2 linked regions of the Homo sapiens genome follow. The protein of the gene in region 1 interacts with the protein of each later gene in a biochemical or structural test. Each region holds a gene or a part of one and is shown in the gene's direction. Other genes may lie near its edges.

Region 1 (6,070 bases):
CGGGTGTCTGCCTGTAGTCAGAGCTACTCAGGAGGCCGAGGTTGAGGATCACTTGAGCCTAGGAGGTTGAAGCTGCAGTAGCTATGATCCAGCAACTGCTCTATAGTCTGGATGACAGAGTGAGACCCTGTCTCTAAGAAAAGAAAAAAGAATAGAAAAGGAAAAACATGATTGAAATCTAAAACCTAGAGTGCTGTTTGTAACTGTTGCCTCCATTATTTTCTCAAGGAAGGAAACCTATTTGATTCTGATTTTTACAGCCTAATGATAATGTAGCTATATTCAAGAACTCAATGTTTCATTCATCAGAGGAAGAAACTTCAGAATGTAGGCTGAACCTCACCTGAACACACAAGCACAGAAGGAATCATATGTGTTTCTGTGGCTCTAAGTGAGAAAATACGTTGAGAGATTTGAGGATTTATGGAGTTGACGACATGTAATTGATCCCTGAATCCATCCCATACAGGAAACAGGACCATAAAAAGATTGCTTACGACCGGGCGCGGTGGCTCACGTCTGTAATCCCAGCACTTTGGGAGGCTGAGGCGGGCGGATCACGAGGTCAGGAGATTGAGACCATCCTGGCTAACACAGTGTAATCCCGTCTCTACTAAAAGTACAAAAAAATTAGCCGGGCATGGTGGCGGGCGCCTGTAGTCCCAGCTACTCGGGAGGCTGAGGCAGGAGAATGGAGTGAACCCGGCAGGTGGAACTTGCAGTGAGCCAAGATCACGCCGCCACTGCACTCCAGCCTGGGCGACAGAGTGAGACTCGGACTCAACAACAACAACGAAAAGCTTACCTTTTATGTGCTCATATGTAAAGTTGGGACAATGCTACACATATTGCATGTTTTCTGTGGAGATTAGGAACAATGTGTGCATGGAGACAGCACAGTAACTGGTACATCATAGCCCATGTATCACATTGTCCCCTTCCTTTTTCTAACATATTTCTCTCCACTCAAATAGATAAGAGGTTTCAAGAGAAAATGACTGGGGTTTGTAGAAAAATAGACAATAAACGGGTAAAACAATTGAGAAGAAATGCCAAAAAAAAAAAAAGCGTTAAAGAAAAGATAGCCCTGGACATTCAGGATCCACAAAGCAAAATATAAATTTGTGGAAAATTAATAAATTTTGTTAGCATGGGAAAAAATATGCAGAATTCTCTCCATGTGCGCAAATAAAACAAACAAAATGTCAAAGTAGTTATAATACCTAGGTTTTAAATGGTATTTATCATAGAATGGCATTTTTATAAAAATTTAAAAATTTCCAGAATTAAATAAAGTCAGATTTCTACATATGTTAAGGAACGAGAAATAGATCACCAACTTTCATACAAAGATTTTCCAATGAGTTTTAGAACCCAGATGAACAAAAGAGTCTATTACCAGATTCTCAAAAATAGATGTGTAATTCAACAGAAAACTTTGTGGTAGAGGTAGGTTTCAGATGCTAGAATGGAAACAGTCTCATGTACAAAAAAGTATCTTTTTTATTAAAAGGAGAAGCACTGGGAAATAAGGAAATATTCCAAATTGGCTGGAGTGTCCTTTATCCACATCACGGATTGTTCTTGCCTATACCCACCTCTACTCTCTCTTCTGGATTGGGTAGGACTTTTGGAACCTACAAAATGCCAACTCTAAAGAGAATTACTTTCTTATATTTGTTTCATGGTCTGAGACTCAAGTAGGAAAATAGGTTGTTTCCTTGATAATGCCACAGTAGACAGAGGTAGGTCTGTAATTGAAAGCTCCTAATTTCCAGTGCTCTAGGCTTCAACTGCCTAAAGCTGAGTGTTTGAATAAGTGAATGATGTGGTGCAAAAAGTGGTTGAAATAAAATCAGAAGCTACCTACCTTCCTTTCTCTCCTTGCCCTAATTCCTTCCTGATACACAGCATCATCAGACCTTGTAATGGAGTACCAGGGCCCCGCCACGGAGCTCCAGAATTTAAGCAGAGAATGTCCACAGGATCAAGTCCATGACCCAGGGTTTCACAAGTTTCCCACTCTGGAGTCCAGGACTGAGCCAAGAGGGCCCCCACACACAACCAGCGCAGATCTTACTTCTGTGTGGACACTTTGGTTAATTACTTAGATTTATTGAGGTACAGAATGTGCATACAGGGTGGTCAGTCAGTTGGTGGTCTTGGATAGTAAACTGACAATAGAACAAGAAAATCTATTGTTCAATTCCTTGTATTTAATTAAATATAAACTCTGGATGATTTTATGATGTGTCAACTTGAGTACATGTATGTACAAAGAGGGAAATGAGGGCAGTAGCCATTTTGTGGCATAGACATACCTTATTATTCTTCAATGAAACACTTACTTAGGACCTGCTGGAAAGGCATTTTGCAGATGCGAGCAAAGGTCCTAATCCTGTAACTAGGAAGTGTACCCAAGTAAGCCTGACTTCATCAGTGAAAGTCCTTTAAAGAAACACATAGGCATTCCTTGAACAACATTTTAAATGGCAAATGGGACTCTAATCTTCCAGTTGCCCCCTATTGACTTTAAACCAAAGCTTTGATTCATGACCACTGGGATCCAGCCAGCGGGGGATTTCTTTTCCTGATGGACTGTACCCAGGATCTCACATTTGCTTAAGCAGCTCCCACAATTGGGTAAGTCAAGTCTTTGCACTTAATTCATATGTGAATCTCCCTAACTATACATATATCTTATGGGTTCTGCTTTTGTCTTTGAACCTGGACAGACCTGGGTCTGATAGATTTGTCTTCACTGTTTTGACAGTCTTGACCATAAGTCTTCTGGACCATTGGCAAAGAATTCCTCTATCAGAAGATATTTGAGTAGTCCCTTCTGAAATCTCTTTTTTAAAAAAAATAATTTTCATATAACAACAAAAAGACTTGGCATAGAAAGAAAAATATAGTCCATCTCTATCATTTGGATTCTGTATTTGTGAATTTGCCTATATGCTAAAAGTTATGTGTAATCCCCAAAATAATTCCCGTGGTGCACTCCTAGTCATTGTAGGACATCATGCACTATATGGAGAAAAACGTTAAAATCATAACTCATCTTTCACCCATGAGACTGGTGAAGTTTTGTAAATTCAATGAGAGACCCCAGGTTAGTGGGTTTATTTGGTTAATCAGTGATTTCTCTTAGAGTGGTAGAAAACAGAAAACAAAAAGGAAAGTTTTATCTTCCATTGGACTTCTCTGGAAATATCCTATAAATGTACTAAAGCAGCATTTAAGCTGGATGAGGTGGTTTATACCTGTACTCTTAGCACTTTGGAAGGCCGAGACCAGAGGACCACTTGAAGCCAGGAGTTGGAGAACAGCATGGGCTACAGAGTCATACACTGACTTTACCAAAAATTTCAACAAAAAAAATTAGCCAGGTGATATAGTGTGAGCCTAAAGTCGTAGCTACTTGGAAGGCTGAAGCAGGAGGATTACTTGGAATTCAAGGCTGCAGGGAGCTATGATTATGCTACTGCACTCCAGAAGGAGACCCTTTCTCTAGAATAAATAAATGTGCACTTAGAGGAATGCCTGTATCATGGAAGAAACTCAATAAACAGTATAAAATGCATCTTAGTTAATTTCTAGCCTATGTATGCTCTGACAGGATTTATGTTACATATGATTCATTCAGGCACTGGTGTTCAGAATGAAAGTGTGATGATAATTTAATCAGAGCTGCAAAGGTGTGTTCTAAATACTGCATAAACCTAATCATCTTTGTCTCCACCTTTCTGAATGCTCTAAATACCCATAAAGAGGTGGGTGTGGTCTTCACAGGTTCTTATAAAAGGACACGGAAGAGACAAGCTCAGTTTTCTCTGAAGGAGAAGGACTGCACTTAGAACTGCATTTTGGCGACCTCTGAAATTCAGTACTGCAGTGAATGAGCTTCTGATCTTGAGGTGAACTTAACAAAATTATTTTTGGAAAAATCGTTGTGGGAACCATTAAAAGAACTCCAGGGTGAGTGAAACATATTGATAAAATTATATCATCTTTCCTTTACACAATAATAAATTAGAGTGTTAAAAATATCTCATTATCTGAAATCTACACAATGATACCATTTGTAACTCATGTTCTTACTATAGATTTTATGAATTATAAGGATACTAATTGTTGTTATTTTGTGCTTTCTATGATTGTTTAATATAGTTCTGAAAAACTTAAAATATCTAGTGTTTGCTGCAACAGATATGTATTCATAATGAATATATGGAGTTGATACATATATGTACACATAGGTGTGTGTGTATATGTATGTAATGAGTGTATTAATATTGTCAAATTGAATTGAGAAGACATTAATGAATGATGAAGTTATTTGCTTTCATAACATTCAGGTTTTAGACATGACTTTAAATTAGTAAGGTAATGATGAGCGATGCAAAATAGTGAAACTAAAACAATGAGAAAGCTCCCCAAAATATCCTACTTTAGAAATCAAAACACAATTTTTCGAACAAGTAAATTTATAAGACCTAATATGGTATGTGATTGTGATTGTCATCTCACTTGAGTCTCAATCTTATTAAACTGTGAAAAATTTCTTAAAATGTCTTAGATGAGTTCTGGAAAATATTTGCAATTCTAAGATTTTTCACTGCTTTCACTTAAATTCAGAAGTGATATAAAACTAGCAGCTTTATGCTGCTTTATGCTAAAGGATTTAAAATTGCCAAAACAAAGATTATAGTTTTTATATTAGTCAGGGTTCTCCAGACAGAACCATAGGATGTATACATATATGTGTGCAGATACATTCATGGGCCATTTGAGTCAGCCACAAACCACATATGGGGGTCCCATAAGATTATAATACCAATATGTTTACTGTACCTTTTCTGTATTCAATTATGTTTAGATACACAAATAGTTATCATTGTGTTACAGTTGCCTACAGTATGCAGTACAGAACATACTGTACAGGTTTGTAGCCTATTGTAGGAACAATAGGCTATAGTGTATACCATAGGTGTAGTAGGCTATACCATCTAGATTTGTGTGGTATATTCTATCATATTAAAACAATGAAACCGCCGGGCTGGGCACTGTGGCGCGTGCCTAGAATCCCAGCACTTTGCAAAGCCAAGGCAGGCAGATCACTTGAGGCCAGAAGTTCAAGTGCAGCCTGGCCAAGATGGCAAAACCCCATCTCTACTAAAAAAATACAAAAATTAGCCAGGCCTAGTGTCACGTTCCTGTAATCCCAGGTACTTGGGAACCTGATGCAGGAGAATCGCTCTGAACCTGGAGGCGGAGGTTACAGTGAGCCGAGATCACGCCACTGCATTTCAGCCTGCGTGACAGAAGGATACTCTGTCTCAAAAAAAAAAAACAAAAAAAAACTAAAAACACCTGACACATTTCTCAGAACATACATCTGTCCACAAGCTATACATGATTCTACATGGGACAGAATTCATCAGGAAAATTAATTTGCTTGATTATGGAGTCTAGAGAGTTCCAATATAGGCTGTCTCTAAGCTGGTGTCCTGAGAATACCGGTATCCTGGCTAAGCTCAAGTCTGAAAGGTTCAGAACAAGTTTCAGGAGAGAGACGGAGGAAGTTGCCTTTTTTCTGCCTTTTTCTTTATATCTGAGGTGTCAGCTGATTGGATGGTGCCCACACACATTGAGAGATGAGGCTCCCACTCAGCTCACCAGCTCACATGTCTCTCTCCTCTAGAAACACCTTCACAGACTCACCCACAAACAATGCTTCACTAGTTCCCTAGGTGTTGGTTAATCCAGTCAGACTGATACCTAAAATTCACCATCACACTATGGAAATATAATTACACCTCTCTGAGTTTAACAAAAACCTCCTATATGTTAGTTCAGAGCTTGCACAGCCCTAGGGGAAGTTAATTTAATCCGCAAGAAAATAAAAAGACCCAATATCTTTAATAATTTTTCTTTTCCCTACTAGTGAAACTTGATTAGTTTAATTGCAGTCTTTTTCTTTGTTTATTTGGTTGGTTGGCTTTTTTTTAAATTTTGTTTTGATTTGGGTCTTTGTTTTTAATTTAATTTAATTTTAAGTCCTGGG
Region 2 (3,796 bases), on another chromosome or scaffold:
TATACCAGAGATGGTTAGTCAGTTGCAGAGAGAGGGAGACATGAAGGCTGTGGAAAGGAACAGGCAGATGTAAGAGAGATTACAGAGGAAGAACCCCCAGAATCTACTGATTATGTCTTAGGAGTCATAGAGGACTCTGACTTTTCAAGGCTGAGCAACTAGAGCCATCAGCAAAGCTTTAGCCCAAACTGGGAACTCATGAAGGGGAACTGATGGGGGAGGGGGTAGGGAAGACCATTCTAGTTCACACTTGTTGAATTTGAGGCACTAGCAGCAAATCTAGGTGGGAGGAAGTACAGGACTAGTACACACCAGGACTAGAAAGAAAATATTTGGATAGGCTGGGTGTGGTGGCTCATGCCTGTAATCCCACCACTGTGGGAGGCTGAGGCAGGAGGATCACTTGAGTCCAAGAGGTTGAGGCTGCAGTGAGCTATGATCACACCACTGCACTCCATCCTCAACAACTGAGACTCGGATTTTTGAGACCTTGTCTCAAAAAATAAAAAGGTTTGGGTGATAGTTAAACCCAGGGGGAAGTCTTAAAAAGGGAAAGAAAAGAGGCCATAAATAAATAGAGCTTTGGGGATATTCACAGTACCTTGAATGTAGTTGGTCAATAAACATTTGTGGAATGAACCTCACAGTGTTAACAGTGTTCATTCCATAAATATTGAGTATCTGCCATATGCAAAGCACTCTGCTGGAGCCATGTGAGTACAAAGCATATGAGAACCCACAAGCCCAGAATGTGATATGCTGCTTGCCCCCAGGAAGCAGAATATCCACAGTAAAGCATGTACCATGACAGGGCCTTAAGAGTGATACAAAAATGTTAATGTTGATCACAAGATCTAGCTTAAGCCTTTCCAAAAATAGTCAACATGAATGAGTACAAATTGGGATGGCCGTAGTAATGAGATTTACTGATGGCTTTCTTTTCAATTATTTGTACATCTAGGGAGCCTTATCTCTTTGGCCCCTGGGCAAAGTGGCCTGAGAGTCTGGACAGATGGCATATACTAGAGTTATGTGTTTTTCACACATATTAATAGTGATGGAACTTTAGCAACATCGTTTTTTCCCCAAAGAAACATGACTCCTTATTGACACATATGTACTTGTTAATTCCCAGATTGTGCCTTATAACCTGCCTTTGCCTGGGGGAGTGGTGCCTCGCATGCTGATAACAATTCTGGGCACGGTGAAGCCCAATGCAAACAGGTAAGGAGAGCAAAATTAACAAGTCTACTCTATTTGTAGATTGGTTTTTGAATAAAGAATGGCCTACTTTTTTTCTTCTTGCCCTGTCTTACAGTGCTATTTTGAATTTTAGTAAAATTTTAAAAACTACATATTTAGAATCTTGGCTATACCATCATATAGGATTATCCCATAAATCCATACATATTCCCATATAATTTTGCTAAGCATCATGGCACTCATAGTAAACGGTAACACACCTTATTCTATACTTTGATATGTATTATGTCAGCTAATCTTCATGGCTGAAGGCAGGATAAGGAATATTGCTCTCCCCTTTTTATAGACAAAACTGAGGTTCAGGTTCTACAGATGATCAGTGGCAGGCCTGGGAACCCGTCTTTTGAGCAGATACTATTTGCTTATGGGTTTGAAGAGATTCTACAAGTTAAAAACTTCATCATTATAAATCAACCTTTACTATTGGAAGTAGTTTGATTGATGAGGTGGGCTAGGATGGGGTGAGGCTTTATTTAGGAAAATACATGCTAATTATGGCTGTCCTGGGCTGCTTGGCCCTGGTTGTCACCACTGGTTATGTAGTACTTACATATCATACAAGGAAGCTGGCCATGTCCTGAAACCATCTGAGATGCCTGCCCCTAAGGTTAGTGGAACTGTCTCTAGGTCTTATGGACAGTACCTAAATGGCACAAATTCAAGCCATGTACACAGGTTTATGCAAGAATCCATAAACAGTCTCAGTGTCTGTCACCTTGCTCCACATCCTGCAATCAAGAGATGGACTTCACTTCTGATCTGATAATTTCACATTCAAATGCTCATTCCCTCCACCTCAGCCAGCCTCCTCTGCTTCTGCAATGGTAGTCACTATCCTAAGCCAACCCATCTTTCCACACAGCCTAGACAATTTCTGTAAGCACAGAACTTCCCCGTACAATAATGCCCGTCTCATAGCAAATTACAAAATATATACATCCTCTACCTATGTCCTTATCCGTATTTCCTCCCAACATCACATAGAACCCAGCACACCTTATCCTGTGCACACAGCACTCATGATTTATTAAATATCTGCTCTCCTCCTCCCACAACCCCTAACGCACACTGAATACCCAGTTTGGTATCCTTGTCTTGTTAGAGTCATTTCACTGGAAAGTTTAGTTCTAATAATGCTAGAGATGTAGATTGAGACTGGCAGATCAAAACTAATTCTGGTTGAAATGGTTAATGGTAGTAAACTTAAAAAAAACTGTTGCTTAGTCCTGCAAATTCTATATGACGAACTGTGTAGAAAAAAAAAGTGCTTAAGGTGACAGAGATGACAACATTGTATATTTAGTCAAATACAAATTCTATGCTGTTTTTTCCTTACAAATTTAATCACTGGAAGATCATTTGTGGTTGAATGTGACTGTTACTGGGTGAATCAAAATACACAGACAATCTTTGTTAGTTGGTCTAGAGTGCAGATTAAAATACGAATACCTACTGATGACTCTGGTGTTACCGCTCTATAGAGCGCACTTTGAGAAACTCAGGGATGGGGTTAGTCAAAGAGGACTTGTGTTTGCATTAACCTCCAGGGAGAAGGAACAGGGTCAAAAAGCTAAACTAGCAATTTCATTGGTTCTGGCTCACATCATAGAATGTTTACCACATTTACTATCATGACTTTACAACTTAGCAACAAGATACTGAATATTAACTACCTTATCTCATTCTTGCTGTTTTAGAGGAACTAGGGCTTCTGGTTAATTATGAGGAAGCCAGGTATTTGATGGCTGTTAACTATATAGCTGGCTTGCCTTTACCAGGTATTGAAAGCAAACTGGAAGAGCAGGAAAGAGATAACCATTATCTATAGTAAGGGATAAAGTGTCCTCAGAGTGGCTCTAAACCTCTGTAAGAAAACCTCGAAGGGTTTTCATGAGTCTGTAGGGGCATTACAGATGAATGGAAATATGATCGAAGACAATGAGGCAAAAAATTCAACATCTATTGTCTTGCTTACCTTTAGATTTTGTGATAGTACATAGAATATCAGGCATAGGATATTTTCCAGTTTGAACCCATTCTGATTTATTTGCTTTCCATTCAGAAAAATTTCCTAGGTACTGTATTATGAAATTATTTGCTTTTTAGAAAATTACATGTTCTTTACACAGTGCAAATGTACAGCTTTAATCATTTTAATAACTGGTCTTTGGTTTAAAACAGAATTGCTTTAGATTTCCAAAGAGGGAATGATGTTGCCTTCCACTTTAACCCACGCTTCAATGAGAACAACAGGAGAGTCATTGTTTGCAATACAAAGCTGGATAATAACTGGGGAAGGGAAGAAAGACAGTCGGTTTTCCCATTTGAAAGTGGGAAACCATTCAAAGTAAGTTATTGCTACTATTATATATTGATAATGTATATTTCTCATGAGGAATCACTCTAAAACCCCAAAGCACTTGAAGTGAGAGTTTTTATCACCTCTCCTAAGGTGCCTAACCAGTTTATCTTCTCCCTGCCCAGGGGACCAGGCTCAGCAGGCTGAGAACATGGCCAGGAGTGGCACACTCCC

What was found. The genes of interacting proteins can lie anywhere in the genome.
Region 2: the proteins of TRIM49 (region 1) and LGALS3 form a complex in vitro, tested with the Homo sapiens proteins (one study listed by BioGRID).

The regions. Positions count from the first base shown.
Region 1 is NC_000011.10:89,805,010-89,811,079, reverse strand, and holds the start of TRIM49 (tripartite motif-containing protein 49), read left to right. Parts: upstream 1-2,504; 5' UTR 2,505-2,643; intron 2,644-3,795; 5' UTR 3,796-3,981; intron 3,982-6,070.
Region 2 is NC_000014.9:55,139,140-55,142,935, forward strand, and holds part of LGALS3 (galectin-3), read left to right. Parts: intron 1-1,135; coding exon 1,136-1,224; intron 1,225-3,444; coding exon 3,445-3,610; intron 3,611-3,796. UniProt on the Homo sapiens protein: Galactose-specific lectin which binds IgE. May mediate with the alpha-3, beta-1 integrin the stimulation by CSPG4 of endothelial cells migration.